Linked DNA regions of Homo sapiens. The protein of the gene in region 1 purifies or fractionates together with the protein of each later gene. This does not show direct contact. Each region holds a gene or a part of one and is shown on either strand. Other genes may lie near its edges.

Region 1 (15,754 bases):
CCAGTTCCCAACCTTCATTCCATCTTTTTTTTTTTTTGAGGCTGCCAATGATCTGTACTATAACAGGTATATTAGAAAATACCAAATTCTCTTAGAGAAAAAAAAATTGCACAACAATCTCAACACTGAGAGGACTGTCCAAGGATGAAAGCAAGGTACTCCTAGGTTAGTAGTTTTTCAAACCTATAGATGGCATTTGGAAAGAAGTACACGCATAGGCTTCAAAAAACCCTGAACACCAGAAACCTAATTAGCACTTTCATTTTAGGGGCACGGGCTTTCCCTTATCCTTTTCTACAGCCAACCTTAATGGGGTCCAATTAAGGCAACAATGAAAGGTTACAAAAGTCTACAAAAAGGTCCCATTACAGCATTTAAACAGGGTTCATTTTTTTTAATCAAATAGTTTACACTGTTTTTTTGTTGTTGTTGTTTGTTGTTGTTGTTGTTGTGTTTGTTTTCTTTTTTGAGCCTGTTGCCCAGGCTAGAGTGCAATGGAGTGATCTCGGCTCACTGCAACCTCTGCCTCCTGGGTTCAAGCAATTCTCCTGCCTCAGCCTCCCGAGTAGCTGGGATTGCAGGCGCCTGCCACCATGCCCAGCTAATTTTTATATTTTTAGTAGAGACAGGGTTTCGCTATGTTGGCCAGGCTGGTCTTGAACTCCTGACCTCAAGCGATCCGCCCACTTAGGCCTCCCAAAAGTGCTGGGATTACAGGCACGAGCCACTATGCCCAGCCCTGTATTTTTTTACCCAAGAGAAAATTCCCCCACTGGCAGATTTCTACCCACTTATAAATGTAAACCAGTAAACACATTTTTCACTAATCTATCAACCTGAAATACTCTAATACTCTAAGTCTAGGCCAACAGGTCATAAAGAAAATTACCCTAGAAACAGAGAAAGAATAAAATTAAGGTTTAATAATTTTCTCTTAATTTTTCTTATCAGTGTCTCAACAAAATAATTCAGGCCAGGTGCACTGGCCCATGCCTGTAATCCCAGCACTTTGGGAGGCCAAAGCGGGAGAACTGCTTGAAGCCAGGAGTTCAAGACCAGCCTGGGCAACATACTGAGAAACCGCATCCCTACAATTTATTAGAGGCTGAGGAGGGAGGAGCACTTGAGCCCAAGAAGTGGAAGCTGCAGGGAGCCTTGATTGCAACACTGCATGCCAGCCTGGATGACAGAGTGAGATTAAAAAAAAAAGGAAATTTCAGGCCCTGGCTTTTAATAGAGAATGTTTATTAATGTTTTTCAAAGGTAATTCTCTACTCATTTCGCTCTTTTAAAAGTTTAGATTGCATGTTTAAAACCATACCCTATAACCATAGGAAGGGAAGGAAATTTTTCCAGTGGGGGTGGGGACTCAAATCTTTAGCTGACTCATATTTGCAATATCATTCACATTACATTCTTAAAGTCTACACGTTTTGTTTATTAGTTCACTAAGAATTACAACTGGGTAGATATGTTTGTGGCTACTAATGTGCCCAATTTACCACTGGCAAAGTCAAATTTAGCTAAACACCCATTCAATAACTACAACAAATGAAGTTTGTTTTAGCTTTAAGGTAGACATTTGTGGCCTAGGTGCGGTGGCTCACGTCTGTAATCCCAGCACTTTGGGAGGCCGAGGTGGGTGGATCACCTGAGGTCAGGAGTTCAAGACCAGCCTAACCAACATGGTGAAACCTCGTCTCTACTAAAAATACAAAGTTAGCCGGGCGTGGCGGTGCATGCCCACCCAGCTACTCAGGAGGCTGAGGCAGGAGAATCGCTTGAACCCGGGAGGCGGATGTTGCAGTGAGCAACATGACGTTGCGCCATGGCACTCCAGCCTGGGCAACAACAGCAAAACTCCATCTCAAAAAAAAAAGGTAGACATTTGTGGCCTAGAACTGTAGGACTTAATCCAACCTCCTACCAGGTTTTTCTCCTGGGCATTATAGTCCTAAATTTGTCTTAAAAGGTAGTTAGGGGTCGGGGGAGGGGGGAGGGAAAGCATTAGGAGATATACCTAATGTAAATGATGAGTTAATGGGTGCAGCACACCAACATGGCACATGTGTACATATGTAACAAACCTGCACGTTGTACACATGTACCCTAGAACTTAAAGTATAATTTAAAAAAAGGAAAAAAAAAGTAGTTACAAGTGAGTTCAGGGTTTCTTTTGAGGGAGATGAAAATGTTCTACAATTGATTGTGGTGATGGTTGTACAACTCTGAAAATATCAAAAACCACTGAATTACACATCATAAATTCGTGAATTGTATGGTATATTTCAATAAAAGGGTTTTTTTTTTAAGTAGTTATAAGTTCTTCCTTTGCTCAAGGATGTTTCTACTGATAAGCCTCTTCTCTAAACGTTAAAGGCTTAAAGTGGCCAAAGATACAAGTAGGGAAAGATTTCATGACACCAAAGAAATAGGGAAAACAGAGAGAGGGTTAGGCCTAAGTCGATCAAACCCCAAATTAGGGAGAATGATACGCTGGAAAGGGAGTAAATGAGCTCCATATCATTAACACTTCTACCATACAAAGAAGTGTATAAGTTCCTCCCTCTTCTCTAGGAGTGGAACCAACAGGCTCACTCAAAAATGGTGACTGTATTAAAACATTTAAGGGCAGTTTTACACTTGGCTATAAAGATGAAGGAATCAAACTAGTAACCACAAGAAGTTAAAGCTGAAAAATTTTTGTCTCTTGTGGCCTCTGGGGTTTGATTTAAACCTTCTCCGGACACAAAGAAGAAATCTGTGGAATCTAGGCCCGGCACGGTGGCTCACGCCTGTAATCCCAGCACTTTGGGAGGCCGAGGCGCATGGATCACCTGAGGTCGGGAGGCAGAGGTTGTGATGAGCCACTGCACTCCAGGCCTGGGCAACAAGAGCAAAATTCCGTCTCAAAAAAAAAAAAAAAAAGAAATTTGTGGAATCTATCTATGGCCAAATGTGAGACATTTGAAAGCAAGAAAATAAGTTACTAAAGCCATAAATATATTCCTATCAAAATTTGGGAGACAAAAAAGTATTTACTGAGCAGCCAACTATTTTTCTGCCTAATAGTTACACCCTTAAAATTACTCATCTCCAAATACCACAAAGTGATATGGAAAAATATCATTTGTCCTTAAACAGACATCTAAGTACAGTATCATGGAGGAAATTAAAAATTTGCATTTTAAAGGTGACAAAACCAGAAGCCAGATGAATTGTAAATTTAAGAAGGTTTTGGTCCAGAAAACAAGCCTGGTTATCCTACATAGTTGATATAATTTGAAACAAAGGTTTGTATTAAACTTCAAACTCAGATTTGAAGTATAGTCTTCTTGACTTAATCACGTTTTCTCACATTTATCTTACTATATTTTCAAATTTCTGAGAACCCCTAAGCTGCCATATACAAAATAATGTAAGTACTCTAAGTTTTCAGAAGCCAAGCAGTTTGGGAGTCTCACTGAGAAAGCAGCTATAAACTGAAACTATATTAAGTACCATTGGTAAAGATACAAAGGTAAGAACAAAAGGAGACAGAAATGTTTTATACTTCTCCTTACCTTCTAACAAGTAAAATACCAATAGTTCCAATTCCCCTTCTAATATAACCATTTGTGTTCCAAAAACTCGGTGAACAAAAATCATCCAGAAATACAGACATTATATATATCACCATGGAAAATATTTCACACTTCTTGAAGGGTTTTTTTGTTGCTATATATCAACTATATGAAACCACTTGTTCACAGTTAGCTTTCCCAAAAACAAAACAGTTTCTAAAACAAAGACTGTTTACATCTCTTAAGAAGCCTTTGTTCCAACAAGACCCCTCTTCAAGAGCTACAACTTCTGGAAAGATTTCCCTTTTTGTGGTTATATCAACAACAAATACTCTCAAACTCTTTCCATTTGGCAAAGGAGTTTGTTAAACAAAGGAGGAAGCAAGTCCCCTCCACACAAAGGAGGTCTCCAAACAGAGTACTGGTTGTATTTGTAGATTATTGGTGCCTCTTTAACCCCTTTCCTCAGGCTGTACTATGTAGCACTCTCAATACAAAATGGTGGCCATCATGTCTGTCTGACATTCAGAGTGAGAAAAAGGCAATTCGATCACACATTTTGCAAAGATTACCATTAATATTCTAGCCAAGATGAGGAAATGGGTAGCCAAGCCTAACCAGAGCAACACTATCTTTTCAGAAAAAGGGCCCTCTAAAAGGCAAAGAACAAGAAAACAAGATAAAGGATTTACCCCAGCCCTGGTATACCACAATACCAACATGGAGGACACCTCCCAGGAACCTGACTCCCCACGTTTTGGTTACTAAGAACTTAGTCAAGTTACCCAATTTCTGAATAAAATCCCATTATGCAAATGTGCAATATTCATATTCACCCTTCCTAGCATGTGACATGAAGCTACATTACTACAGTGTGAAACATGACCTATTATTCAAGAATTAAAACCTTGGCTCTAACCAGCCCTGTTATAACTTCTGCAGGCCTCTTTGCACTAAGAGAAACGTACTTCCCTTAAGCAGCAAGAATCAACCTTGCCCACTTCGCTGTAAGAAATGGATCTATTTTCAAACATTTCCCTCATATTCGCTGGCCAGTTATTTTCTGAAGCATGTATTTCATCTCCATTTTCAAACTTGCTTAAGAAAAACTAAAGTAGGTGTCCGTGTTTTAATTTGGGGCAGGGAAGGGTTAAGAAGCCTTATTTTCAGGGATCTCCCTGAAAACAGCTTTCCAAAACATAACGATTACAAACAGAATCCCTACAACTCAAAATGTCATTACAAAAAGCAAGCTTAAGGGAGAAAGGGGTGGGAAGGGGTCTTCCTCTACTTAGAAGTGGGGGTGGGGGAAGAGAGTGGGGAGAAGATTCTTAAACAGCAGGAAAGGCAGTTAAACCCGCTTCCCAACGGTCCCAGCCCGTCCAACCGCCGCTTAGGCCAACTCGGACTCAGACCCTCCCGAAAGGTGGGCAAAAAAAACAGGGGTGTAGGAGCGCACCCAGTTCCGGCCACGGAGGAAGGAGTTGGCCGGGCTCTCCTCAGCGAACGTTGGAGCCGTTACGGATGGTTTCAGCAACACCCACCCCTCACTCACTGCCCCCAGGCCCGAGGCGCTGTAGACAGGGCTGGAAGGGCTGCGGTGGGTGACTGCCTTTCAGTGCCCGGAGCCTGAGGGCCGGGGGAAACGAGCACGAAATCTTCGGAGGTCTCTCCGTCTGACGTTCCCCTACAAACACGGCCTCGCCCGGACCCCATCCCCACCAGCACAGCCCAGGCCTCCCCGGGGAGCCGAGCGGCTGAGCCAGAAGAAGCCGGGAGTGTGCGCGTTCGGGAGCGCGGGCGGGCATCGGGGCCCACCGCCGCCCGTCCTGCCCCCGCCGCCCCAAAAGTGTCCCCCAGACACTAACGCCCCCCACAAACATCCGCTCCGGGGCTGGACCCGCGGCTCCTCCCCGCCCCCAGCCAGCGCTGGCCGCCCCCTTCTTGACCCCGGCCCGGGGGACACCTGGAGGCCCGGGGACCAGGCGGTGGAGGGGTGCCCTGGTCTGGAGGGTGGGGCGCCCAGGTGAGGGCCGCTCCGGGCCGACGCCGCCACCACACAAAGGACCAGGGGCTCCCGCCGCCATATTGAAAACTTTCCTCCTCGCACGACAACTCGCAAGTCCCCCACCCCCACCCCACCCCATCACACACCCCCGCACCCCGGGAGCGGAGGCGAGGACCAGCCTGCCGAGCCTCGCCGGGCCCACAGTCCTCCCTCCAGCCCGCGCCTCCGCCAGGCTCCGTGAGGAAACTCCCCCGCGACCACCCCCGGCTCCTGCCATCACTCCATCCGGAACCGAACCCGAACCTCCGCACCCGGCCGCCCGAGCCCCGCGGCGACCCGGCCCTCCCATGGCACCGCCGAAGCCCCCGGTTCTCCCACGCTCCTCATCTCCCACCCTGGAGAAGCCCCCGTCTTCCTCCCCCGGCCTCAACTCCGACCTTCTAGGCAGCCCCAAACTTGACGAGGCCGGCGGGGCGACCGGCTCCCCGCCCCCCGCGCCTCGGGCCTCCCCGGACCCGCGCGTCCCCGCTCCCTCCCCCAGCCACGAGCTGGATCCGGGGTGCTGGCGTGACTCACCGGCGGCGGCCGCACCTTACAGATGCCAGTCTGCTCGGCTATGGGCCGGATCTTGTGGATGAAAGCGAAGGGGTCCGCGAACTCTTCCCAGCTGGGTTCGAAGACCGGGCACTCGGGTGGAGGCAGGAACTCGCCCAGCGGGCCCGGGCCCCCGAGGGGCAGCGCCGGGCGCGGGCCTGGGTGCAGTGTGGTGGCCGCCTCCATCACCGCAGGCTGGGCAAGGGCGAGGCGAAGGTGGGCTCCGGGACCGAGGCTGCGAGCTCCGCTCGGTCCGAGACCCGTGCAGACGCGGCTCGAGCAACAGCAAGTCCGAGTTGTACGGGCAACGGCAGCACCTTGGGCTTTTTCAGCCTCCGACGACGACGTCTCGCCGCAAGCCCACGCCGTGCGCCTCCGCCGCCACGGCGAGGAAAAAGAGTCCCACCCCACCCCCATCGACCCACCCTCCGCGCGCGGCTCCCCGCCCCGCCCCCGAATCGGGCGGGGCCGCGCCTTCCGCTGTGGATGGAGTTTATCCTTAGGGTTTCAGTTGAGCCAACTTTTATTGACCATTTACTATGTATCAGAGTTCCTGCCCTGAAGAAGTTAAGTCTGGTAGAAAGGATCAGTCCCATAAGCCAATCATTCAATCACGTCAGTACACAATGGTAGGTGCAGTAAAACCCAGGAGGGGGTTTTGGAAAGAGTATTGGAAACGGAGAAGGATTTTCCAGTAGAGATAACAGCTTGAACATACACATAGCATGTTCATGAGAAGGCAATAGTAGTAATAATAATAATAACGTAACATTTTGGGGCACTTTCATATCCTAGGCACTGTTCTAATTGCATCGCATGATTAATCACACAACCCTATGAGATAGGTACTCTTATTTCCACTTTACAATAAGGAAAGTGAGGCATAGGTAGGTTAAGCAATTTGCCATAATTCACATGGCTAATAAGTGATGGAGACTATTGGGAGGTGGAGATGTTGCAGGGAAAATAATCATCCACAAACAGTCTATGACGAGGTCAGACTTGAGAGGGGCGAAAGACTTGAAATAATCCAGACAAGGAATGATAGGATCTAAATTAAGGCAGTGGTGCTGATAATTATGAGGAAGGGATGCAAAGGTAGGAAATAAAATTAGGACATAGTGACAGATTGAGGGGGGACGACGAGGTATTAAGATTCAGATGTCTGGCGTACCTGCCTGAGTAGATGCTAGCCCGTTGGCATTGCTGGAACATTCACCCCAATTATATACAGAAGGCGAGTTACTCAAGGGAAGAAGATACTGTGTTCATTTCTGGACATTTTGAATTTGAGGTGTCTCTGGTACATACAGGTAGAAATACACAACGGGGTATCCTTCAACAGACTGAAGGGTATAAATCTGAAGGGGCGAGATCAGAATTGGAGATATAAATCTGGGAGTTATGTGCTTATGGGTGATAGCCGCTATTTAATGCTACTGTGTGTAAAGCACTGCTCTAAACGCTCTGCATGTATTAGCTCACTGAGTCTTCACAACCACCATATTGAGTAGGTACGATATTATCCTCATTTTGCAGAGCAGGCAACGGAGGCAAAGAGGTTAACGAACTTTAAGAGATACGAACACTTTTGAGGCGCCTTTTTTCTTTTGGCGGGAGACGGGGGACGGGGGTGGGGGGGTAGTGTCCAGCAGCCTCAGAAAAAAGGAGGAAGCTCAAAAAGTAGAACGTCAACATTGAAATGACCTCTTTCATCCAGAAAGCTGCCAAACGTATGCAAGGAATGTTTGTCAAGATCTTAGTTCGCTTTCAGATTCACCTAGTGGAAGGAAATCTCTTATGCTTAAGAAGTCTTCAATTAAAAGGGGGGATGGGCGTGGGGGGAGAAGAAAACCGCCTTCCCTTCAACAAATTTTTCCCAGAGGTACCGGGCCCAGGAAAGAGTTCACAGTGGTCCTGGGAGAACGTATTCCTTTTCTTAGCTCTCCAGGGCTTTGGGACCTGGAGTCTTTTCCTGCTCCCTACTGCAATGGAGAGTCAAGCCCAGGGGACAGCTAATACACTATTAAAAGAATTATCAGTGCAAGATAGATATGCGATGTGGCAAGTTATAATAGAATCTAGGTAGTGGGTATAGAGGAATTTGATGCAAATTTCTTTTAACTTTACTGAATATTTAATAATACTAAATAAAAGTTGGGTAGAAGAATTATCGTCGATGGCTCTTTGGTGCGCATTCTGGGCCTCCGAGGGTCTTGATGAAGCTCATGTAGTGTCATGTGCTCTCTCGGGAGAGCGTTGACTATTTTCACTCCTAACGTTGGCATCCTACGAGCCAGGTAGGCATAACTTTGAGACAAATTCTAGACTTACATGAGTTATGATTATTATTTAACTGAGATGGACAGGAAGAACAAGCCTAAGAAAATCTTTCCCAATTCTCAGCTGCGTCCTACGATTCCCTCTCGCTCCCAACTCTCAAGGTCTCCCAGTCCGGCTTCCTCCATTTCCGGTAGTGACCCTAAGTGATGAGATTCTATCGCTCCCAGATCAGGCCGCAGCTGTTTGGCTCCCAGCAGACCCGGTGTGACGTTAAGGGACGGGGCGGTTGCCGGCGTCTTGAGGGGAACCTAGGGACCGAGAGGACTCTCCGGGAAGGCAGCCGCTCCCCCGCCCACAACAGACGCTCCCCTTGCCCTTTATGATGTTTACATGGGCGGAGGGATCCCTCCCAGCTGACAGCCACACCGCGCCGGCCCTTCTTTTTTTAAAGAGCCTAGCCACGGGCGCTGACTGGCCGGCAGCCGGGCGCGTCATCCTCCGGGGGCGGGGCCCGGGCCGCATTGTCTCGTCTAGGGCCGGCTGGACGCCCCAGAGGCCGGACCTGGGCAACCCCAGCCTGGAGGTGCCGGGGCCGGAGCTCCCAGAGGGCTGGGTGCGAGGCCTAGGCGGGGTCAGGTTCGGGTTCCTAGGCCATAGCGGAGCTGCAGCCCAGGCGGCCGGAGCGGAACCCAGCCCCGCTCCGAGTGCCACGTCTCCAGGAACCCCCTCCTTACTCTTGGACAACACTCCGCCCCCGCCCGGGCCTCCGTCCCCCAAACCGCCCTCATTTGTGCAGCGCCAGATCCTTCGGACACATCCCTAGGTGTCTCCATCCTCATTCGGTCCATCCAACTCCCAGACCTCACGTCAACCGGCTGCACCCCACTTTCCAGCCTGCGCCCCAGATCTGCAGCCTTCGCCCCTAGATACACCCGCCTGGTGATGAGGCGCTCCTCGCGTTCCTTCCGGTAACCGCGTTGCGAAGACCACGCTGCCGGGTTGCAAACTTGGGGGGACTTCCTCCCTCCCCTCCCCCTGGGCGCCGTGCAACTGCCCTGGGACCGGGTTCTGGGATGAGGGGGGCAGACCGGGCTCCCCAGCGGCCGGCGCAGCACGTAGCGCACGTGTAGGGTCCGCTCCCCACCCCCTCGCCGCCTCTGACAACTTTTCAGGGCTCCAGGTGTCCGTGAGCCTCCCTTCCGCCCTGGCCTCCGGTCTCTGCCTTGCTCGTGCTTCTACCACCACCCTTCCCCTCCCAACCCGGTGGATCCTCTCGTCTCCCCCAGTCTCCAGTGCACCGGCTTTCCCTCGTCCTCTGCGCAGTCCATCTCAGCTCATCTCTCCAATTCAATGCCATCATCTCTCCTCACCATCTCTCGGTGCCCTGGAATGTTTGCTGTCAGATGTCCCCTGTGAAACCCACAAACGCTTGCGATTTGGCCTCCTTGTTTTATTTTGTGTAGTCCTACAACGTCTTGTTACTACCCCCTATTACAACACTTATAACTCAGTATTTGTCTTTTTTCCGCGGTGTCCCTGCACTCTCCCCATACATATTCCTCTCCTGCCAGATTGTAAGCCTCTAGAGGGAAGAAGTAATGTCTCTCTCCTTGGCACCAGGCACGTGGCACACGCTCCACAAATATTTGTTGAAAGGGAGGGTAAATGGCCTTGAGTTTCTGTGGCTACCATTGGCTGAGGATGGAGCTTTGGGCTGGACAAAGAAGAATCTGGTTGACCACATGAAGCAGGAAGGAGGCTCAGAACGGTGTTGAGGGAGCCTCCACAATGGGTGGGCACCACAGGTGAGATAAACCCATCCTCCCCCATTCCCTGCCCTGCTTAATTCCCGGGAACCAGCAACCCCTCCTATGCTATCGTCTACTGCTGAGCTGGTCCCTTATGGTGGACTTCTGTGCTCACTGTTCTGCTTTAGCCCCAGCTGTCGGGGCTGCCCTTGGGGAACAGCTTACACCTTGACCAGGCGCTCATTTCTGGGTTTCTGTTCTTGGGAAGCTGGGTCTGGGTCCTGGGAGCCACCTGGTAACTAATAAATACCTCTTCCTCCTCCCATCTGCTCTTCCTCTCCTGTCCTGGAATCCCTCTCTGATGACTCAGCCCAACTGAGATCCAGGGTAACTGCACCCTCAGTCCTGGGCTTTGGTTTACCTGGGTGTGGGGCTCAAAGGGCTAGACCCTTGTGGGGGTCAGGCGCTGACAAGTGGAACATTCCCACGGTGCTGCCAGCCCTGCCCACGGGGATTGGGAGGGGCAAAGTTAGCCACACCAGGGCTTCAGGGCGTGTTTCTTCCCATTCCAGTTGGGCAACTTGAGAAGCCCTGGACTCCCAAGGAGCAATCCTGTGAGCTGCTTAGAGAAGCTGTGAGGATTAGAGGGAAACTCATGTTCCCTGTTCATCCCGCAGTGGCACCACCAGCACCCCTAATTTGGGTCTCTGGGCTGAGGGGCCCCTGGCAGCATGCTCAATGGCCTTGGATAGCTGGAATGTTTGGAATTGCCTGCATCTTGGATGAAAGTCTTAACAATAGAATGAAAACTGCTGCAACACTGTGTCAGCACTTTACAGACCACCACTGTAAATTCCCAGTTGAAACTGGGAATTTGGAATTCCATGTTCAACCAAATCATGCTGAGTGCCCAGCACAGCGTCTGACACACTAAATGCTACAGGTGAATTCCCTTTTTCCTCTTTCCTGGCAGGAAGCGGGGATAGGGGAACCACTAGAAATACTGTAATAACATGAATAAGACAAGGCCATTAGCCGGGAGCAAATCATAGAACATCAGCCCTGTGAAATGAGTGGTATTAGTGTTACCATTTTTCAGATGGAGAAATTGAGACTCAGAAAGGTTAATTAGCCAAAAATCACACAGACAGTAATAGCAGAGCTAGGAAAAGAATGTTCATCCTAGTACCTAACTTTGATCTTCCCAAAACACCAAACTGACTTCTAAAGCTGAAGAAAGAGGACACAGAAGCTTCATCTCAGATCTCACCACCAGCTGCCCCTTAATCTGCCAACATCGAACCATTCTCTCCCCTCTAGACTACAGTGGCTTCAAACTTTGACTTATCTCCAGTATTTTTTTGTACATAGCAATAGCAACAAAAGTTTCACAAAACAATATTACCTTTGTATGGCCAGGCACGGTGGCTCATGCCTGTAATCCCAACATTTTGGGAGGCCAAGGCGGGCAGATCATGAGGTCAGGAGATCAAGACCATCCTGGCCAACATGGTGAAACCCCGTCTCTACTAAAAATACAAAAATTAGCCTGGTGTGGTGGCGTGTGCCTGTAGTCCCAGTTACCCAGGAGGCTGAGGCAGGAGAATTGCTTGAACCCAGGAGGCAGAGCTGCAGTGAGCTGAGATCGCACCACTGCATTCCAACCTGGGCGACAGAGCAAGACTCCGTCTCCAAAAGAAAAAAAATAGCCACGTGTGGTGGCACACACCTGTGGTTCTAGCTACTTGGGAGGCTGAGGTGGGAGGATCCCTTGAGCCCAGGAGTTTGAGGCTGCAGTGAGCTATGATTGTGCCACTGCACTCCAGCCTGGGTGACAAAGCAAGACCCTGTCTCTAAAAAGTAACAATAATCGGCCGGCACGGTGGCTCATGCCTGTAATCCCAGCACTTTGGGAGGCCGAGGCAGGCAGATCACAAGATCAGGAGATTGAGACCATCCTGGCTCACACAGTGAAACCCCGTCTCTACTAAAAATACAAAAAATTAGCCAGCCATGGTGGCCAGTGCCTGTAGTCCCACCTGCTGCGGAGGCTGAGGCAGGAGAATGGCATGAACCCGGGAGGCGAATCTCGCAGTGAGCCGAGATTGCGCCACTGCACTCCAGCCTGGGTGACAGAGAGAGACTCTGTCTCAAAAATAAAATAAAATAATTTAAAAAAAAACAATAATCTTAATTTCAGTCACTCCCTCTATATTCCCCATGAACAATGGAATTTTCCCAGAATATCGTCTACATCATATACAAAATCAATAATTATATCTTTTCTCTTCCATTTATTTTTCACCATTTATTTTATTCACTGGTCTGTATTTATTTATTTATTTATTTTTGAGACAGAGTCTCCCTCTGTCACCCAGGCTGGAGTGCAGTGGCGCGATCTCACTGCAACCTCTACTTCTTGGGTTCAAGAGATCCTCCTGCATCAGCCTCCCGAGTAGCTGGGACTACAGGCACAGGCCAAAACGCCCGGCTAATTTTTGTATTTTTAGTAGAGATGGGGTTTCACCATGTTGGCCAGTCTGGTCTTGAACTCCTGACCTCAGGTGATCTGCCTGACTCAGGTGATCTGCCTGACTCAGCCACCCAAAGTACTGGGATTACAGGTGTATAATCTGCCACCCTGCCTAGCCACATTTTCCTTCTATCTCTACCCACAGCCCTTCAACCCCAGGGATCACTTTGTGCCTTATCTTTATAGCACCCTATGCTAAACAGGTGCCACATCTAAGACCAAGAAATAGCATAGAGTCTTCGAACCTCTCAAGACCTGAGTGAAAGCAAGAGTTAAAAACTCAAATGCCTGTGTAGAAGCCAGACAGGTACATGGGGGAGGTGAACAAAGTGAAGTCTGTGGAGAGGTGAGAATGCAAGTCCAGCTACTGGGGGCCATCACTGCTCAGACCAGGGTTGCACCACGTTTCCATTTTTCAAGAGAAGCCAGTTATTTAGGCTTTTATATAAAAGCTCTCCCAGTTTTTGTTTGTTTGTTTGATTTTTGTTTGAGACAGAGTCTCCTTCTGTCACCCAGACTGGATTGCAGTGGCATGATCTCATCTCACTATAAACTCCACCTTCCGGGCTCAAACAATTCTCCTGCCTTGTCTTTCCAAGCAGATGGGATTACAGGCATGTGCTACCACGCCTGACTAATTTTTCATTTTTAGTAGAGACAGGGTTTTGCCATGTCGACCAGGCTGGTCTCAAACTCTTGGCCTCAAGTGATCCGACCACCTCGGCCTCCCGAAGTGCTGGGATTACAGGCGTGAGCCACGCCTGTTCAGCTCTCCTAATTCTTTTTTTTTTTCCCCCCTGGCTGGAGTGCAGTGACACGATCTCAGCTCACTGCGACCTCTGCCTCCCAGATTCAAGCTATTCTCCTGCCTCAGCCTCCCAAGTAACTGGGACTACAGGCACGTGCCACCGCACCCAGCTAATTTTTTATATTTTTATTAGAGACAGTGTTTCACCATATTGGTCAGGCTGGTCTCAAACTCCTGACCTCATGATCCACCCACCTCGGCCTCCCAAAGTGCTGGGATTACAGGCGTGAGCCACTGCACCCAGCCTCCAATTCTTAAATGTTCAATCTTTCATCAGATTTTTAAGAAACAGTGTGTGGGCCAATTACACATGCCTGTGGCCACGCCCCTTCTCCACCTGCCAGAAGAGACTAGTGGGATGATGAGATTCTTGCCCTTCAGAAAAAACAATGGTTGCCAAGGGAGCATTAGCTACGGTACCCAGAGATAAATGCTGGAATGGAGGTGAGCTCCTGGCCCATCCCTACCCTATGGGTCTAGCTCATGCTCTTAGGCTTAAAGGAGAACTCTGGCTTCCAGCAAAGTGCAGAGCCCACTCCTGGAACACACACTGGCAACAGGCACACTGTCATGGATGGCCACCCCTAACTGCAATGTGGATGAGGAACCTGGGTGGGGTGTCAGGGCTTTTTAATATTTATTTCTCCTTCTCTATTTTTTGCCTCCTCTAAATCCCTTAGAAAAGTGGGAATCAGATGGCAAGATACAGAAAGGTTCTCAGAGTGTTGTGCATCTGTGTGAAAATCTAAAAGAAAAAAAACTGGGATGAGGATTTAGGAATAAGGGAAGATGGACCTCTCAGGTATAATGGGAAAGCAAGCAGTGCTGGTCTCCATGGTTGAAGATGGTAATCATTCCTTACAGAAACAGCTAACATTTATTGAGTGCTTGCTATAAGCCAAGAATGTTTATGTGGATACTCTCTTTTTTCTGTTTTTAAAAATAATAACTATTTATATAGGATGATCTCTTTTGATCCTCGTAAGAACTCTTGAAAGTAGCCATCATTTATTTTTATTTTTATTTATTTTTTGTTAGCCCAGCCCTGTCCTGGGTAGCCATCGTTTTTATCTCCATTTTATAGATGAGGAACTGGGGTTCAGAGAGGCTGTCATTTGGCCAAGGTCACATGGACAATAAGTCTTGCAGAACCAGATTCCAGCTCTGGCTGTCTGAGTCCCGAATCTGAGCGCTTAACCATCACCCATATACTGCCCTTCTCTGGAGTACTGCCCAGTCCCCCTGACTGACACCGCTGTGCCCCTAGCACCTAGCATAGTGTTTGTTGAAGAAAGATGACCATTCACCATTATCATGTAGTCCCTATAATTGGCAAGTTAATAAATACTTGTTTAGCATGTTCTCTGGATCAGGTTTTATGCAGAGTGCTATGGATACAGCACTGAATCAAACAAAGTCCCTGCCCTTTAAGGGCTTATATTCTAATCTAGTGGATGGAGACAGACAATAAACACACACACAAAGAAGTAAGTTAGCTTCTGGTAGAAATAAATGCTGAGAGGCCAAGCGCAGTGGTTCGCGCCTGTAATTCCAGCACTTTGGGAGGCCAAGGCGGGCGGATCACTTGAGGTCAGGAGTTCGAGACCAGCCCAGCCAACATGGCAAAACCCTGTCTCTACTAAAAATACACAAATTAGCCAGGTGTGGTGGCGCATGCCTGTAATCCCAGCTACTCAGAAGGCTGGGGCAGGAGAATCTCTTGAACCCTGGAGGCAGAGGTTGCAGTGAGCCAAGATCGTGCCATTGCACTCCAGCCTGGGCAACAGAGTGAGGCTCTGTCTCAAAAACAAAACAAAACAATGAAATAAATGATGAGAAAAACAGAATACATGATAAAACTACTGGGAGGCTGGAATGGGAGGGGTGGCAAGCGCTGTTAGCCACAGTGATCCAAGGCAGCAAAGAGAACATCAGAGCTCAGATCTGAATGTTAGGAAGAAAGCAGCTATTGGAAAATCTATAGTAGAGAGTTCTAAGAAGAACATTGAATGTCATGAAGATATTGTAAAATTAAAAAAAAAATAGAAAAAAATTTTAAAGAGGAACAGCATGTGCAAAGACCCTGAGTCACGAAACAGCTTGGTATGTCCGATGGACATACCAAGAAAAACAAAAGAAAAAGAAAGTCCCTGAGGCTGGAGAGTGGGGAGGGAGATGAGGTCAAAGCAGCAGGCAAAATGCTAGATCAGGGGGGCG
Region 2 (16,258 bases), on another chromosome or scaffold:
CCTTTGGCTTCCGCAGTGTAAACCTTGCCTGCCCGGAGGCAGGAGGCCCAGCTGGACCTCCGAGGGCCATGAGCAGGCAGCAGCCATCTTGGCCTCAAGCTTGCCTTTCCCTTGAGTCCCTCTCTCCCCTCGGCTCTAGCCAGAGGTGCAGCCTGCAGATCTAGGAAGAGAAGAGCTGGGGAGGAGGATGAAGGCCTGGTTGGTGTGGTCAGTCCAGGCAATGCTTCTGCCAGTCCGGAATGAAGCCCAGCGGAGGCTTTCTGTCTCCTCAGTGGCAGAAAAAGCCAGATGGGAAAAAGTAAAAATCTGGGAGAGTATATTTCTTGAGGCCCCAAATCCCACTTGTCTTACTCCTGGCTCCCATTTTTCCTCTGAGAGCCAGGTCTGTAGGTCTATGGCTGTGGGTGGGAGGGGAGGGGTCTCTCCTGAGGAGTCTAGCAGAGTCCACGCTCCTCATGGCTCAGCCTGGAATTGCTCTGCCGCTGCAGAACCCGGTGGGTCACTGGGTGACGGTGGGGTTTAGCACCCCCCCAGTTGGCCCCAGAACCCCAGGGACAGAGCCAGGCACTGAGGCTTGCAGGGAAGACACCGGACTCAAGGGCTCTGGGACACTTCTCAGAGGACCTGGCTGAGGCTGGGGAGGCTGTGGTGGCGGCGGAGGCGGCTGTGGTGGCTGCTGCTGCTGTTGCTGCTGCAACTTCTTCTTGTTGATTTTCCTCTCCTTTGCTCTGCGGTTCTGAAACCAGATTTTAACCTAGAAATGGAAAGGTGGAGAAAAGCACATTGTGGTGAAGATGTGAGGGAAAAGAGGAACAGTACCCAGCAGTATCATCAACATCTTCTGCTCCAGCTACAGAACTCCAAGTCCTTCTAGAAGCTTTCCTCGGGCATCCCCATAACAGCCCAACCCTGGATCCATTCTTAGGCCCAATTCAGCCTCATGGGGAAGAGTCTTCCTCCTTCCTTGCTCCCTGAGTTTCTTTTCAAAGCAACTTTTATCTACGTATTTACTGCAAAAGTTTAAAGTCTCAGAACCAAGGAAAACTGAAACTGCAAGGCCCTTTCTACACAGCAAAGGGAGGCCAGTGCTGGGTGGTATACTTCAAATGGCAACCTTTGGCCCCTCAAGGCTAAACTAAAACGTAATTTTCCTCACCTTAGAGCTGAAAATGAGATTTAATTTTGTGGCTTCCTGGCTGTGAAGTTGGCCTGTTTTTCTAGACTATATATATAAAATGTTCATGAACCAAGTCTTGTCCCTCTAGTTTTTGTGAGAGACTGAGTACTTTATTCAGTTTATTTTCTTAGGTACAGTGCTGGAAACAAAGAGAATAGGTCTTTAATATGTCTTTATAGACCCAAATGGAATTCTGGATTAAACTAATACCCTTGGCTGTTTTTCACACTTCTTATATCCCTCAAAAGAGAGAGACAGAAAAAATCAACAACATCAAAAAAAGAGGACTAAAGGTAGAAGGAGGCTTTTTAAAAAAGTACTCCAGGGCCAGGCACAGTGGCTCACACCTGTAATCTCAGCACTTTGGGAGGCCGAGGCGGGTGGATCACCTGAGGCCAGGAGTTCGAGACTAGCCTGACTAACATGGAGAAACCGCATTTCTACTAAAAATACAAAATTAGCCGGGCGTGGTGGCACATGCCTGTAGTCCCAGCTATTTGGGAGGCTGAAGCAGGAGAATCGCTTGAACCCGGGAGGCAGAGGTTGCAGTGAGCTGAGACCGCGCCATTGCACTTCAGCCTGCACAACAAGAGTGAAACTGCGTTTCGACGGTGGCGGGTGGGGGGGCATGTACTCCAGGCCAGGCATGGTGGTTCACACCGGTAATCTCAGCACTTTAGGAGTCCAAGACAGGAGGAGCATTTGGAGTTTGAGACCAACCTGGGTAAGACAGTGAGACCATCTCTGCAAAAAATTTAAACATTAGCCAGTCATGGTGGCTCGAGCCTGTAGTCCAAGCTACTCAGGTGACTGAGGCAGGAGGATCCCTTCAGCTCAGGAAGTCAGGGCTGCAGTGAGCTATGATTGTGCCACTACACTCCAGCCTGGGCCACAAAGCAAGACCCCATCTCTGTTTAAAAAAAAAAAAAAAAAAAAAAAGGACTCCAAAGACGAATGCTTGCATCCTCCTGCTTCAGTCTCTCCACAGATTTAGATGGCCCCTGCAGCCAGATTTTCTAACTCTCATGGTCCTCTGCCAGGCAGTGGCCCGCCCGGAGGGAGCTAGGCGGTCCCCACCTGCCTCTCAGAGAGCCCCAGCGTGGCGGCTAGCTCGGCTTTCCTCCGGATGGTGATGTAGCGACTGTAGTGAAACTCCTTCTCCAGCTCCAGCCGCTGGTGGTCCGTGTACACCACTCGATATTTGTCTTTCGTCCTGGTTTTCACTGTGGAGGAAGGAGAAGTGAGGGCTGAGAACTGCAAGGCAGCCCATCAGTCATGGGTAATGACAAACCTCCCTAACCCAGGGACATTTCTCTTCCTCCACCACCCTGGGGGGCCCGGGTTTGGCTGGTTCCTGCCAAGTCTGACAAGACCCCCCAGAGGGTCCTGTGGGGGGAGGGTATGAGGCTAGTGGAGGCAACTAAACTAACCTTGGTATTAAGTGGTTTTTAAAAATTAAGGAAAGTGAAAACCTCATTCACACAGAAGACAGCAGAATGTAACCACCCTTTCGGTAAACCAAATACAGTACTGGCATATATTTGACACCAAGGGAAAGGGGGCAGGGTGAAGTGGCCGGGATCCTGGAAGCATCCAGATTTCCAGGCCTACCAGAGATGGAAGCCCACCCCGAAAACAGCTGTCATTGTGGGCACATGTTGTAGAGGGGGTGTGGGGGTTACTACTTTGCTTTACTACAAGTGGAAAGCGGGGCTCAGGAGCTGACAAGTCGCCAGAATCATCCCCCAGACACACCAGGCCCATCAGGTGGAATTCTGAGCTGGGCTCTGGCCGAGGGAACAGGCAGAAAACCCCTCCTGCTGGGGACACTTTATACCTGCCCAGACCAGGTTTGGCGTTTGGTACTTTTTCTTTTTTGATCCTCCATTTATTCCTGCTGCAAATCCGGCCAGAGTTATCCTGACCAGTGATCTATGCTCATTGGATTGAGTCAACATATTAAATCCCAGATTGATTGTTTTACTGAAGGGCCTTGACAAATAGTGTCCACAATGTTGGAGCAGGCCCGAGCCTGGCGTCTCCACCAGGTCTGTCTTGGCTCAGCCCTTGGCAGAGCCCTGGCCAGAAGCTGTTCTCTCTGGCTCCGTCCCACTTTTGGGTCTTCTTGCAGCTGAACAGGTTCAATCGCCCAGTGCCCAATCCCACAGAAAGATCTGAAGGGCCTGGGAGTTGCCTGGAGGTGTTTAATGCCCCGCAGGCTGACTTTGTTCAGGTAAAACCCTTTGCAAACCACAACAAAAGCGTCCTGGGAAGATACAGGCCTGATCAGAGGGAGCTCCCCCGAGCCGCTGAAAGGCCAACACAGCCGCAAACAATGCAGGACAAGGCGATCTTATCAAAGAAAAGCCCTTTCAATGCCTTAATAACAACCACATTCTGTTTGAATTACCACTACTGAGCAAATGGCGGCCCCGGCTTTCATCCCCCTCCCCGCCAGGCGCATTAACATAAACACGACCCTGCAGGCGCATTTGAATGGGGCTGCGGCCCCGACCCCGCGCCTGCTATGAAAGTAAAGGGAACTAACGCGACTTTCTCCGCGGTGGACGCTCGGACACGCGTGACCGCCTCAAACCCACTCCAGGCTGCCATTGGTACTCGCCCCTTTTTACAGATGAGGAAATGGAGAATCAGACCGGGTCACGCAGATAGTATCAGGCGGGGTTGGCACCGGAGCCTGGCTGGAGCCACAGAGGACACCTCCGGAGCTGAGGCGCAGGGCAGTTCCCTCAGCCGAACACCCCGGGAGGGAGACTCGCCTGGAAGTGTCTCGGAGCGACCCTTGCTCGGGTGCTGCCCCTTCAGTGTCCCGGACGTGCCGGGCAACGCGATGACCAGACCCTGAGCGCTCTTCGACCCATGCCCCAAGGGCCTTGGAGGCGCCCCACACCCCCTGGGAACCTAGGAGCGGGGCTATGGAGGGGAGGGATGAGAGGGACTTGTCAGAATTCATTATTGACTGCGAAAGTCACCACCCTCTTTCCGGGCCCTAAAAGAGACAATGGCAGGGCTGGGAAGGTGTATATCAAAGCAAGCCAGGCCGCGTCCCCCCCTCCACCCCCACACCTTGACAGATGACGCTCCGCAGAGGAGCCCGGCTCCGGCCCGCGGGCTGCGGCCACCCCACATTAACATCACAAGGGCACCCGGCGCCGACTGCGGCCTTGCCACCTCGGCGCAGGACTTCACAGCGGCCTCTCATCTGCTGACCCCGCGGCCTGGGCTCTGGCGGCTTCCCTCCCGCCCCCTTCCCGGCCCTCACCCCGCGGCCGCTCTCCCGGGACACGCAAAGGTCTTCCTTAGGGCGTGCGCCACCCCCGCCAACCGCGCCCCAGACAGGGGCTGTAGAAAGTGGGTCTTTGGGAGCCAGGATCTGGGAGCCCCTGCTAGGAGAAAGGCGCCTCCTCTAGGAGAAGGGACCAAGCCAAAGCTCTGAGGCTCACCCGAGGCTGATCTGTGGCCTTCTCCCCGGTCGGCGGCATTCCCACCAGGACTCTCCCTAGCATGTGCACAGTGACGCAGAAACCGATGCCCAGAGACAGCCCCCAAAGGGCGCTTTGATTTATACAGTTGTAATTGGCTATAAACTTCTGCAAAGTGCCCATAACCAGCGTGCCTGCCCAATTGGGGCATCAAGGAGCGAAGCAAGAAAAGCGGAAGCGCTGAGGGCTGGGGAAAGACTTTAAAAGGGGCACTCAACTAGGACTCTCCCCACCGCACTTCCTTGCCACCTCTAGGCACACTCGAACACCAGAAGGGGCAGACCCAGAGTCAATGAGCCCCACAGTCCGGCAAACCTAGGATCTTTTTCAGTTGCACACACACACTCACAGACATCCCTGACACCCTTGAAAGGAAGCTTTGGGAGAAATGACCCCTACCTGGAGCGGCGGCTTAATTCCCACCAGGGTTTCCTCCCCGTCTCCCTGCTCTCTCCGCAGACGCCTGCCCCTAGGCTTCTTGCCCCTAGCCTTCCAGCTTTTGCTTGAAATGACCCCTTCACAGGTCAGAGGTTCAGAGACGGGGCGCGCCCCCGTCGCCTTAGCAGCTGGGGCTAGCACCTTCTTCCCAGCGACAGCAGCTCTCCCTGGTCTGCCTGCTCGCTGTACCTTGAATTGGCCCGAGTGGCCAAACCCGGTCCCACACACAGCCTAGCCATCCTCCGACCCCCCCAGGTCACTTCTCTTCTTAGATGGCTCAGATGGGGAAAGAGAGAGCGGAGATAAATGGCCTAGACCTAGCCCAAGAAGGTTCGAGCCTCCCTCTCTCCTCGGCGGCCAGGAGCCACGCAAGGAATGCATGCCGCAGCAAGTGCCGGAGGACGCGATTCTGCCGGCGTCCAGCAGTGCTCACGCCGACATTCCCCGGAGCTTCCCGAAGGTGTCCCGGGGTTGCGAATGAGGAGCTCTTGGAAAGAGGACGCCTGAACACGGTGTTGAGACTCAGAATATTCACTCCCAGGCTCAGTAGGTCAGAGAAGCCCCGACGGGCCAGAGGCCCCCGAATTTGTCTCCGGGCCGTGCCCCTCCTGGCGCCGAGCTCCCAGACAGCCCGGGACGCCCCTGTGCGCACTGGACGCGCGACGCGCAGCAGCCACTGGCTCGACCCGCGCCTTCCCAAGCACCCTCCGAAGGGGCGCAGCCTCTGCTTACCTTGGCTGCCGAGGGACTGCTGCGCCGGCTTCCGCATCCACTCGCACAGGTTCCGCCGCTGGCCGCCGGGAGACAGCTGCTCGGCGGCAGCGGTGGCGGCGGGCCCAGGAGGGCCGGGGTTGAGCGTTTGCAGCAGCCCAGAAGCGCAGGAAGGCGCGGCGGCCGGGTGGTGCGGGTGGTGATGCGGGTGGTGGTGCGGATGGTAGTCTGCGGGGCTGCTGTAGCCCATGGCTGCGGCCGGGGAGCCACCGTTGAGGCCGTGAGCCACGGCGTTGGCGGCGGCCGCGGCGCCTCCGGGCGCGTAGCCATTCCAGTCCTCCCGGAGTGGGGCGCCATACGCTGCCGGCCAGGATGGCCCCGGGGACTGCGCGCTGTCCAAGTTCGCTGCCGCTGCAGCTGCGGCCGCCACGTGGTAACCGCCGTAGTCCGGGTACTGCGGGGGGCTGACGAAGTTCTGCGGCGCCAGGTTGAGGCCGCCAGAGTGGCGCACGGAGCTAGGGTACATGCTCACGTCCTTGTCCAGGAGGTAGCTCACGTACATGGTGGCGAGGGTCCGGGAGCAGACCTCACCATGCTGCCTGGGGACCGACGCTGGAGGCTGCCGGGGGGCACGAAGGGAAAGGGGCGAGGGGACTCGAGGAGCGGCGGGTGGCTGCGCCCCAGCCCGCGGTGCTCCGCTGGCTCCTCGCGGCTCTTCTGCCTCCGAGGCGGTCCCTCCCTCTGGCCTGCCTCCTCCCTCCCTCCCTTTCTTCCTTCTTTCCTCCCACCTCCTTCCCACTAGGCTGCAGAGGCGGGGAAGACCCGCCACAGGCTGGCGTGCGGAGCCCCAGGCCGGCGGCCTTCCGTGATTAACGAGTGTTTACAAGACTCTATTAGTAATGACACAGACACCAATGGTTGGAGACGTCGAGGCGCAGCGCGCACTCTACGCACAACCCCTCGAAACATAATTTGCATTTTAAAAGATAAAGGGGAGGGAGGCTCGTGAGAGGGCAGCGACCTGACACAGCTAAATATTCAAACCTTTATTGTTAAGAGCTTCCTCCTTCCAACCTGGTGCACTTTAACCTCCAATCACAGGTTCAAAGAATGAAATCAAGAGACTTACAAAAGAGAGGGGAAGAGAAAAGGCTATCTTGGTAGGAATCTGAGCTTGGAGACAGGAGCAGTGGTTGTTTATGCATTTGCAGGGAAGAGGGCGGTCAAGAAACTCCTTCTGTCCCAAAGAGAAAAGAAAAGAGAACCATTGCTTTGATGAGAACGTTTCTGACCAACCTGGTAGGTGACAAGCAGAGAGCCCTAAGAGATGGGCCATTCCTTCCCGCCCTGTGCTCCTGGCCCGGACGACTGCAGCCCCAAACAACTGTCACCTCCAGTTATTTTCTTGCCCAAGGAAATTACTCGCCCTCCGCACAAGACAAATTATGATCCTAGATTCAGGCTGCATCTCTGACTTCATCTTACATTTGAAATTTGAGTTAAATTCAAGCGATTTATTGTTAAACGTTTACATTCAAGAATCAGAAGTTTTAAACTACAGAAGTAATGGGCATGTGGTAGAAGTTAGGCTAGTGGTTATTGGCGTGCATAACTGGAGGCGAGCTAGGGGATCGTTGGTAAAGCAGTTTCTTAGGCTGCTGGTTACACAGAATGTCAGTTTGTGAAAATTCATTGAGCTACACTTGTATGTTTATTATACTTAAATATAAGGAAAAGAGAATTTCTGCTAATGCTTACCTAGGTATTTATGTGTCTTACATCATACCTGTATCTTTAAAACTCTCTGTCCTTTACAAAGGGAAACGTTCTCCGAAGAAATTTATTTCTCATTTCCAGGAGATGATAAGGCAACTCAGGGCCATTATTAACGACTGCTAATGAAAAGCTCTGAGTTGAGAAAGGATCTCTCTTGGTTTGGGAAGCGCTGCGGCCAAGGGGCCTAGGGCTGGAAGTGGCCGTCTTGGGGACCGAAGCCGCGCAGCCCGGGATCGGGAGCTGCCCCGACAGGAGCGCGGAGGCGGCGAGATTCGGCCCCCGCGCGCGCCCAGCTCGGTTTCAGCAACCGCGTGGAGTGGGCCTGCGGCCGCCGTTCACCTCCTAATACAAGCCTTTGACAGCGCTGCCAGATTCGGGAATGAGGATCACTGCGGCGAGGCCCGGCGGGCTGGGCAGCCTGACTCGGCGGCTTTGAGCGCTCTCAGAACCCGCGGGCGCTCGCGGCACTCCTGGAGACCTGCACTTGTCTGTTCTCATTGTCAAGCGTTTCGCTCGGATATTTGTCACCATCGCCTTCATCCTGTCATTTCTAGGGTGCTCTCCAGTGTCCTTTATCTCCCTTGAGCCTCACATCCCCCTAGGATCTAGAACAAAATCTGGGAGGTGTTTTTATCCTCCCCATTTTACAGGTGACAACCAGCAACTTGCCTCTGCAGACACCTGAAAGCGATCAGAACTAGCCTAGGGCTGCGGGATCCCCTGTTTTCTGGTTCCTCCCACCCTTCGTGTTTGTAAGGAAGAAGGCTGGAAATGGGGGTGGTGGGGTACTCAGGGGCCAAGGAGCTGTGCACTCAAGAGGTGGGAGACCGAGCTGGTCCTCCTGGGGGACTTCCAGCGCCTGGCCTGGACAGCCGAGTGTCATCGGACTTCCTGAGAAATACAACCGGAAGCAAATTGCAAACCCCGTTACAAAATCCGAATCATTGAGAGAAGGGCAGTAGGGGAGGTCCGCAGACCTGATGGGGTGGGAATGTGGGAGGTTAAGTGGTGGGCACTTCGAACTTTTGATCTAGCAAACATCTTCCTCCTCTTCCTGGAGACACAATTCCCCTTTCCATCCCCCATACCATCCCCGCTCCCAGGCCTGAGCTCTGGAAGCCGAGGCTGAGGCTCCAGCCTATGTCTTCGGAATGCGGGCATTCTTTGGAACAATCGCTTTATTAGGGACAGCCATTCCCTCCGCCCTGCGGTGGCCGCTTCCTGCTTTTTTATGGCCCAGGCTGCCGGCCGCTGGCTAATTGTCCCTGTTTTCCAGCTGTGTCTCTGTGCTGTGCCCTGAAGACGTGGCTCTGGCCTGCTCATCCAACTGCTTTGGGAGTGGCCAGGGCTGCTCTGGCCCCTCAGGTCAAGCCAGGCCTCAGAGCAGGCCAAGCCACAGGGAAGCCCGAGGCTCACTTGGAGTGCTCCAGCCATGGAAAGGAAATCATTGTGAACACGAATGTTTCCCTCATTGCAAAAAATGGGTCTCCTTAGCAATGGCATGGCACAGCTGTGGTCCCAGGGTCTAGACCTGTTCGGTGAGGGGAAAGGAGCTGGTAAATGATGTCCTCGGACAAGCTTCTTAGAATGTAAGCGTCCCCATACATCCTGGTTGCTCTCAGCCAGGAGAGGGCCCAGCTGGGTCCCTGAAAAGGCAGGGTTGTGGGAGCAGTCAGAGAGGGGTAGAAGGTGGCTGACAGAACTCTAGGAGCCTGGTTGTCTTGGCATTTAGACAGCCCTGGCCCCTAGCAGGTTGGTGCCCCATGACTGGCCTCTGGAGATTCGCTCTGCTCAGGGGCAGCCTCTCCAGCTTCTAAGTGCAGGCCTGTGTCCCTGGGAGGAGGCAGAAGCCACCCACATCAAGGCCCCATGCAGGGCTTTCTTAGTCCTAGGCCCCAGGTGCTTGGCGTCTTTCTTAGGAGCCTTTTGGCCTGCACTGAGAAGCCCCCAGGAAGGGACAGGGATGGTCATCCCTAACCCTCGATGCCAGAAGGGCCCTTCTACCCTGTAAGTCCTGCTGCTGGGCCAGAGAAGCCTGTAGCAACTCACTCTGGGAGAGGCAAACTTGTTTGGGAAGCTTGGGCCTGCGGTTGGCCTAGGGCTGAAACTGCAACCCCACAGAGCCAGAGCTAGAGCTGACATCTAAGGGCAGCAAAGGGTGGGGAAAAAAAGAGACCCTGGTAAATGAAGCAACAGTAAAACTGCAGGAGTGGCCACGATCAGGTTATCAAAAGGATGCCTCTGTTACTGACAGAGTAGAGGCCATTCCACATTCTTCAGAGAGGGTCCAGGCATGCAGGATCCTGGCTGGTGGCAAGGGCAGGGGCCACAAAGGGGGTGGGAAGCAGGAGGCTGTTGGAAGGGCGGGCTGCCCCTCCAAGCAGATGAAAAACTCCTGAAATCCAGACATCACTGACACAGCTCCCTCCCTGTTCAAAGGTCCTAATATTTGCTCTGACTAAGGGGACCATGCTCTGCCCGATATTTGTGGCTCCTGGAAACTGGGGAGCCCATTGGCTAACATAACCCAGTTAGGGCAGGCCATCTCTATCCACCTTAGTATGTAGGTTGACTTTCTGAATCTTTTTTAGATCAAGAAAATTGTCCAGCCAGGCACAGGGGCTCACACCTGTAATCCCAGCACTTTAGGAGGCTGAGGCAGGAGGATCACCTGAGCCCAGGATAGCAAGACCCTATCTCTACAAAAAAAATTGAAAAATTAGCTGGGTGTGGTGATATGCACCTATAGCCTCAGCTTCTTGGGAGGCTGAGGTTGGAGGATGGCTTGAACCCAGGAGTTCGAGGTTACAGTGAGTTATGGTTGTGCCACTGCACTGTAGCCTGGGTGACAGAGGGAGACCCTGTCTCTAAAAATTTTTTTAATTTGAAAAAAGGAAAATAAAACTATCCAAATAATATAGTCCTTCTATACCTTGCACAGGAAACTCTTACCTTGCATTGACCTGAATTCCAGGGATAATTAAGGAGGAGTGAAAAGGAAGAGAATGTCAGCTTTCAAAATTATTCAGCTTGGCCATCTATACTGATGTGGAAAAACAGCTCAATCTCTACTTAATTTGGAGTTTAGGGAGTCTTTCAGCCATTGCACTCAATCAGCCATCTACTCACACAAAGAAAGGCTCAATAATGGTTGGTTTGACCCCAACAACCCTGCCTTGCCCTGCCACAGCCCACTCAGCTAACATCTCTGGGAAGGAAATCAATGACATCGTCCTTTCTGTAGGGCCTCCGGAGAGTCCGCCACCTGTCCAGCCCCATCAGGCCACAGTGGATCCCAACATGTCCATCCTGAACAGCAGGGAGGGGCCGCAGCTGCCTACAGCCGCCCAGGCTTCATTCACAGAAGCAGATGTCTCCTTGCCCAGTGGAGTGAAGCATATTTTCTTCCCAAGCAAACTGGGTGTCTGACCCTCTCTACCTGAGGAAAGGTTTCTGAATTAATTGGGAGGTCATTGTGGGCTAACATGTTACCACTCAGGGACCAGGCTGCAGGATAATGGGATAAGAAAAGCCAGCTGTTTTACTCTTGTTGTGAAGAGACCACCAAGATTTCTGATCCAAGGCAGGGAACAACTTTTTTTTTTTTTTTATGCTTCTCTATCCAAAATATATTCTCACATCCAAGAGATCAAGGAAAATTAAGAGCCTCAGGAGAAAGGGTAATATTTGGGTACAGAAATCTGGTTTGGTACATTGGGTAAAAGTTAGGCAAATAAATAGTCGTTGCCCATTTTCTTCCTTTCTTCTGAAACTAGGGCCTGTGGACACTGGGCATTGTATAACACATTCTTTGTGGTGGGTGAGGACAGAGGATGATTTAAATCCACAAGAGGGAGTGACTTGGAGGTCTCAAAGATTGGTGTCCCTACTGGGAACCAGAACTTCCACCCCAAAGGAAACCTCTTGATGCTAGGAGCCCAGGCTCCCCGGGCAGCACCAGCCAACTGTTACCACGTGGCTTTGGCGTGGAGAACTTTCAATGAACATTTGTTCCCTCACCATTGTCTCGTGCCTGGAATGACCTTTGTTTGCCACATGAAAATATGTTCCTAGGAAGTCCTACAGGGTAAGTTTCATGTGGCTAAGGGAAGGAGCTTAAATAAAGGTTCTGCTCCTCTTGAGTTACTGTCCCATTGGCTAGCTACATTCCCTGGAGGGGAGTCAGGGGTCTTAAAGTCTGTGTAACCTTTCCATTTTACAAAGGTGAACCCAAGGCTCAGAGAGGTTAGGTGATTTTCCCCAAGTTGCACAGCTAGCTGTTCAAGTCCCTTAAAGTAAATGAGCTACAGTATGTGCATTCTTTGCAACCCATAGCGATCTGTATAGATGTTTATTATTACTACAGCTGCTGGTGCCACCCTGGCAACATGGCACCCCAAACACAAAACCAACTAGCACGATTAGAGAATCCCATTTTCCCACTCCCACCCCCTGCACCAAATAGCACCAGAACAATCAGGTTCTGCTATTGCTACAATTCTGACCATGCTCCAGGTCCTATGTCTTTCACAGGCACCCCATAACTGTGGTTTATTCATTTATTGCATGAATTTTCCATAAATTCCATCCCAGATTTTTCTCCAGTTGACAAAGATGGTATCCATCTACTTTTGTCTCACAGTAAATACTTTCTTAGAATAACTCCTCTTGGGCCGGGCGCCGTGGCCCACGCCTGTAGTCCCAGCACTTTGGGAGGCTGAGGCGGGTGGATCACGAGGTCAGGAGTTCGAGACCAGCCTGGCCAACATGGTGAAACCCCGTCTCTACCAAAAATACAAAATTAGCTGGGAGTGGAAGCGCGCGCCTGTAATCCCAGCTACTTGGGAGGCTGAGGCAGGAGAATCGCTTGAACCCGGGAGGCGGAGTTTGCAGTGAGCCGAGATCACGCCATTGCACTCTAGCCTGGGCGACAGGGTGACACTCCGTTTCAAAAAAAAAAAAAAATCAGTCAGAACTGATATCCTGTGGCTAATCTCTAGAAATGTGTCATATTTAAAATGGGTAAAGATCATGTATAGAATTTATGTTGCCCTTTTCCCTTTCTTTCCTTCCAATTTTAGTGTCTGTAGACATCTTTTGGGCACACAGACCAAAATGCCTACCTTTCTGGGTTAATAAAGAGGAGGCCCCATTCCGTATCCCAGTTAAGTTACACAGGTGAGTGACAAGCCCGGGTCGGCTCCTGAGTTCTCATCCGGAGCTGCGCTCTCCCGTCTCTTTACTGGGAGCGTTCTCCTGCCGGGGCTTGGACATTTCCAAGGGAAGTGAAAATCCACAAAGCTGCCCCCACTTCGTAAGGGCCTGTGCCTGGAGGGTCGTCGGGTTACAGAAATTGAAATCAGCTCTTTGCCTTCCAACTCTTCTTGGCCTTGCCACCGCGATTGGTTTTGTTTTCTTTGTTTTTAACGAATTGGTAAGTAAAATATTAGTTGTTCACCCTGAAATCTGCCCTAACCACTTCCGTACCCCCTGAAGCTCGCTGGGCGCGCCCTGGGCTGTCCTTCCCTGAGCAGCCGGGCCTAGAGTCAAGGCGCGATGATTGCCGCGCAAGCTAGGGTCCACGCGGCCGGGGCTCCTCTCCCGCCTCGGGCGCACCAGAGGCCAGAAAGCGGAAAGCGGCTCTGCCAGGCCAAGGCCGACAGAAACCGAGAGCATGTCGCTATTTGCCGGAGAGAACTGCCCTGCCAGGCTGCCACAGGTGACTTGCCCGCGCGAGCCACGGCCTCTGCGCAGAGCTCCTCCCGAAGGGGAGAGTCAGAGCCACCCGCGGGTTTGGTCGGGGCTCTTCCCAGCCCGGCGTCCACGCCCCGCGTCCTGCGCTCGCCCTTGCGGCTGCTTATGCTCAGGTGTTTCGGAAGAGGCGCCGCGCAGCCAGCTCTCTGTCCCTTCAGCTCCAGCTCCTTCTAAAGGGACAGACTCAGCGTCTGCCCCCATCTGCACCCCTTCCCGCAGGAATAAAATCATTTTCCGGACAAGCTTGGAACTGTTGAAATGTAACTATGTAATTGGAGACACCGGGGTCGTGTCTGGGAGATTCTGAGCTCATCTACACTCTTGCTAAACTGCGGGGAACCCAGCCCTGGTGGGATCTGTGCATCTCACATGAGCTTTTTTACATAAAGAGCACAGACGCTGCATTTGGGGCCTGGTTTATCTAAGCGTGGGGTTTACCCCCAGGCTTGGGACTGGGTGCCCCGAACACAGTGGATTATTCTGAGTCTTAGGCCCAGCCTTGGTATTTGGGTCCTGGGTCAGAAAATCCTCTTTACCAAGCAGCAAGTTATTGTGTGTGTCAGGAAATCCCCCAGGTTACCCTGGCTAGAGAGAGGCAGGTGTCTGGCCCAGGCCCAGCACCCCACCATTGTTGCAGGGTCCCAAAGAACAGGAGCGAGCCACGGAACTTTCTTCATGGTGTGCACTCGGCGCTCCTACACCCAGAGAAGGTGTCTGGCCACAAGCCTAGGGACGCTGGTAGCACAGCCCGCTTTCCTAACACCTGCCCCACTACCAGCTTCTATTTCCTTCAGCCTTACCACAGCAGGAAACACTGTGAGATGGGAACGGGAAAAGGGCTTCCTTGCCTAAAATTCCTAGTGCTTCAGGAATGATTTATTTCTATGGAACATCAGCCCCAGAACCAAGGGTGCAGCCACGCAGCTCTTTATGGAAAGGTTTCCTTGCTGCTGTTGCTGCTGCTGCTGCTAACCCTGGACACAGTTGGTGACTAATAGAAGCTCTTGTCTTCAAAAGGGCCACCTCTGGCCTTCGCCTATTACCTTGTCTTTGTTGGGGAGACCATGGGTGTTTCATTTCTCCTCTGCCAATAGAAGCCTAAGTAGTATTTGTTGGGGCTCTTTACACCTTCCCTGTGTTGGGGGGGGCGGGGGGGTGTCGACGGGTGGTAGAATGTGGTGGGCTCCTCCGCAGGATGCTAATGTACTTTCCCCCAGTGGACAGTCTGGCTGCTGGTACAGGAAGCTGCCCAGCCTAATAGGGGTCTGAAACTCCAGGGCTGACAAGCAAAGATTTCTATGGGCACTTCCCTCCATTTAATCGACACTGCAATCTCGCTTCATTCTGGGGTCCAAATACCCAGCGCTGCTCAATGTTACTATTTTAATAACTGATGGGTTTCCCGGGGCAGTCGAGCCACCCCCCCAAAGCCGACCTCCGGGAGAGATCTTTAGCTGGACGCCTCCCGCCTTTTAGGAGCGATGGCTGCAACTATTCCGTCCGTCCCCACGGGGCGCCTTCCCAACCCTTCGGTTGGCTCTTCCCTTCGCAGGGCTCTTCCCGGCCCACCGCCTCCTTCCTGCGGCTTCCCCGGCTCCCCAGGCCGGACCGAGGCCAGCGTTTGACTTTCCTGGCTCCCAGTCTGCTCCCCTAGTGCCCAAGAGCGAGAACACCGCTTCCGCTCACATGTAAAGGTCGGGCGCAGCAAATGAAGTGGGAAAAGAGAAAAACAGACAAACCGCTGTGGCATAAAAGATTCCTTTTCCGTCCGTTTTGCTTTGCAGTTCGGGCTTAGCAGGAGAGGGTTGGGGAGAACTGGATAAACGCTTTGGAATCCACAAAGGCCGGTGGTGTCGGGGGCCGCAAAGGGAGTGAAGAATTGAAGCAGTGAGCTGGATAAATCCGGGGCAAAGCACTAAACAATATGGATATTTTGGCAACGCGTGCGCGTGTGGGTGGGCGGACAAAAGGACTCATTACTCGTATGATTGCCTCAATTCTCCACTTCCTTTGTGCACGTGTGTGGACGCTGTTCCAGGCCCGAGTCCGCCTCCCGCCCAGGACGCACAGCTCCGGGCCGTGGCCCCCGCGCGTCCGGTTGTGCGTCCCGGGTCCCTGGCCCGCGCGGCAGCTACAGCTTGGCGGGGTCTGCGCGGAGGAGGTCGGCCAGGCGCAGGCTGCCGATCTTCTTCACCTCGCCCAGAGCAGTGCGCAGCTCCTGCGCGGACGGGCAGAGCAGCCGGCGCGCCAGCTCGCGCGGCACCGCCGTCCGGTCGCTGAAGCGCGCGGCGAGCACGAAGGGGAAACCGAAGCGCGCGCGGTACTGCGCGTTGAGCTCGGCCAGCCGCAGCCGCTCGTCCGCGCCCAGGCTCCTCAGGCCTGCGCCGCTCTGTTCCCGCTGCGACTCGGCCGTGAGCGTGCCCCGCTGCAGCTCGCTGCCCGCCAGGTCCGGGTGGCAGCGCAGGATGCCCTCCTGGCCTGCGGAGAAGCACAGACACCGGCGGGAGCGCGTCAACCGCGCCCGTCCCGCACCGCGCACTCGAGGGGGCGCGTAGGCCGCGCCCGGCCCCCCTGCCCCGCCCCGCCCCGCCCGGCCCCAAAGAAGGCTGCGGGAGGGTGAAGTAGAGTACCCAGGCGGTGATGTCCTGGCGGAACAGGGGCGCCCTTGGCGCGCCCCTCTAACAAGTCCTGGACCTTGCGCTTCTCGGTCCCCACTACATTCGGTCGGGACCAGGATCCAGGGGCGGGGCGGGAAGTGACACGTTTGTCTTTTGAGACCTTGGGTCAAGAAGAGCGGAGGAGAGAGAGGGCGGCCGCTGAGGCTCGGAATTTACGACTAGGTCGGGAGGGAGCAGAGACGCGATAAGGATCCTGAGCTTTTCCTATCTTTCAAAGTCCT

The links.
Region 2: the proteins of KDM5B (region 1) and CDX2 purify together in Homo sapiens (affinity purification with western blotting; 2 studies listed by BioGRID, with this or other methods). This does not show direct contact.

What each region holds. Positions count from the first base shown.
Region 1 is NC_000001.11:202,801,955-202,817,708, forward strand, and holds the start of KDM5B (lysine-specific demethylase 5B), read right to left. Parts: upstream 6,468-15,754; 5' UTR 6,352-6,467; coding exon 6,148-6,351; intron 6,056-6,147; exon of another isoform or gene 6,009-6,055; intron 5,346-6,008; exon of another isoform or gene 5,023-5,345; intron 1-5,022. Other genes in the region: uncharacterized protein LOC124904583, read right to left, coding at 9,081-9,605. UniProt on the Homo sapiens protein: Histone demethylase that demethylates 'Lys-4' of histone H3, thereby playing a central role in histone code. Does not demethylate histone H3 'Lys-9' or H3 'Lys-27'. Demethylates trimethylated, dimethylated and monomethylated H3 'Lys-4'.
Region 2 is NC_000013.11:27,962,616-27,978,873, forward strand, and holds the start of CDX2 (homeobox protein CDX-2), read right to left. Parts: upstream 6,701-16,258; 5' UTR 6,392-6,700; coding exon 5,851-6,391; intron 5,679-5,850; exon of another isoform or gene 4,832-5,678; coding exon of another isoform or gene 4,642-4,831; intron 2,425-4,641; coding exon of another isoform or gene 2,401-2,424; coding exon 2,255-2,400; intron 755-2,254; coding exon 500-754; 3' UTR 1-499. Other genes in the region: URAD (putative 2-oxo-4-hydroxy-4-carboxy-5-ureidoimidazoline decarboxylase), read right to left, coding at 15,491-15,837.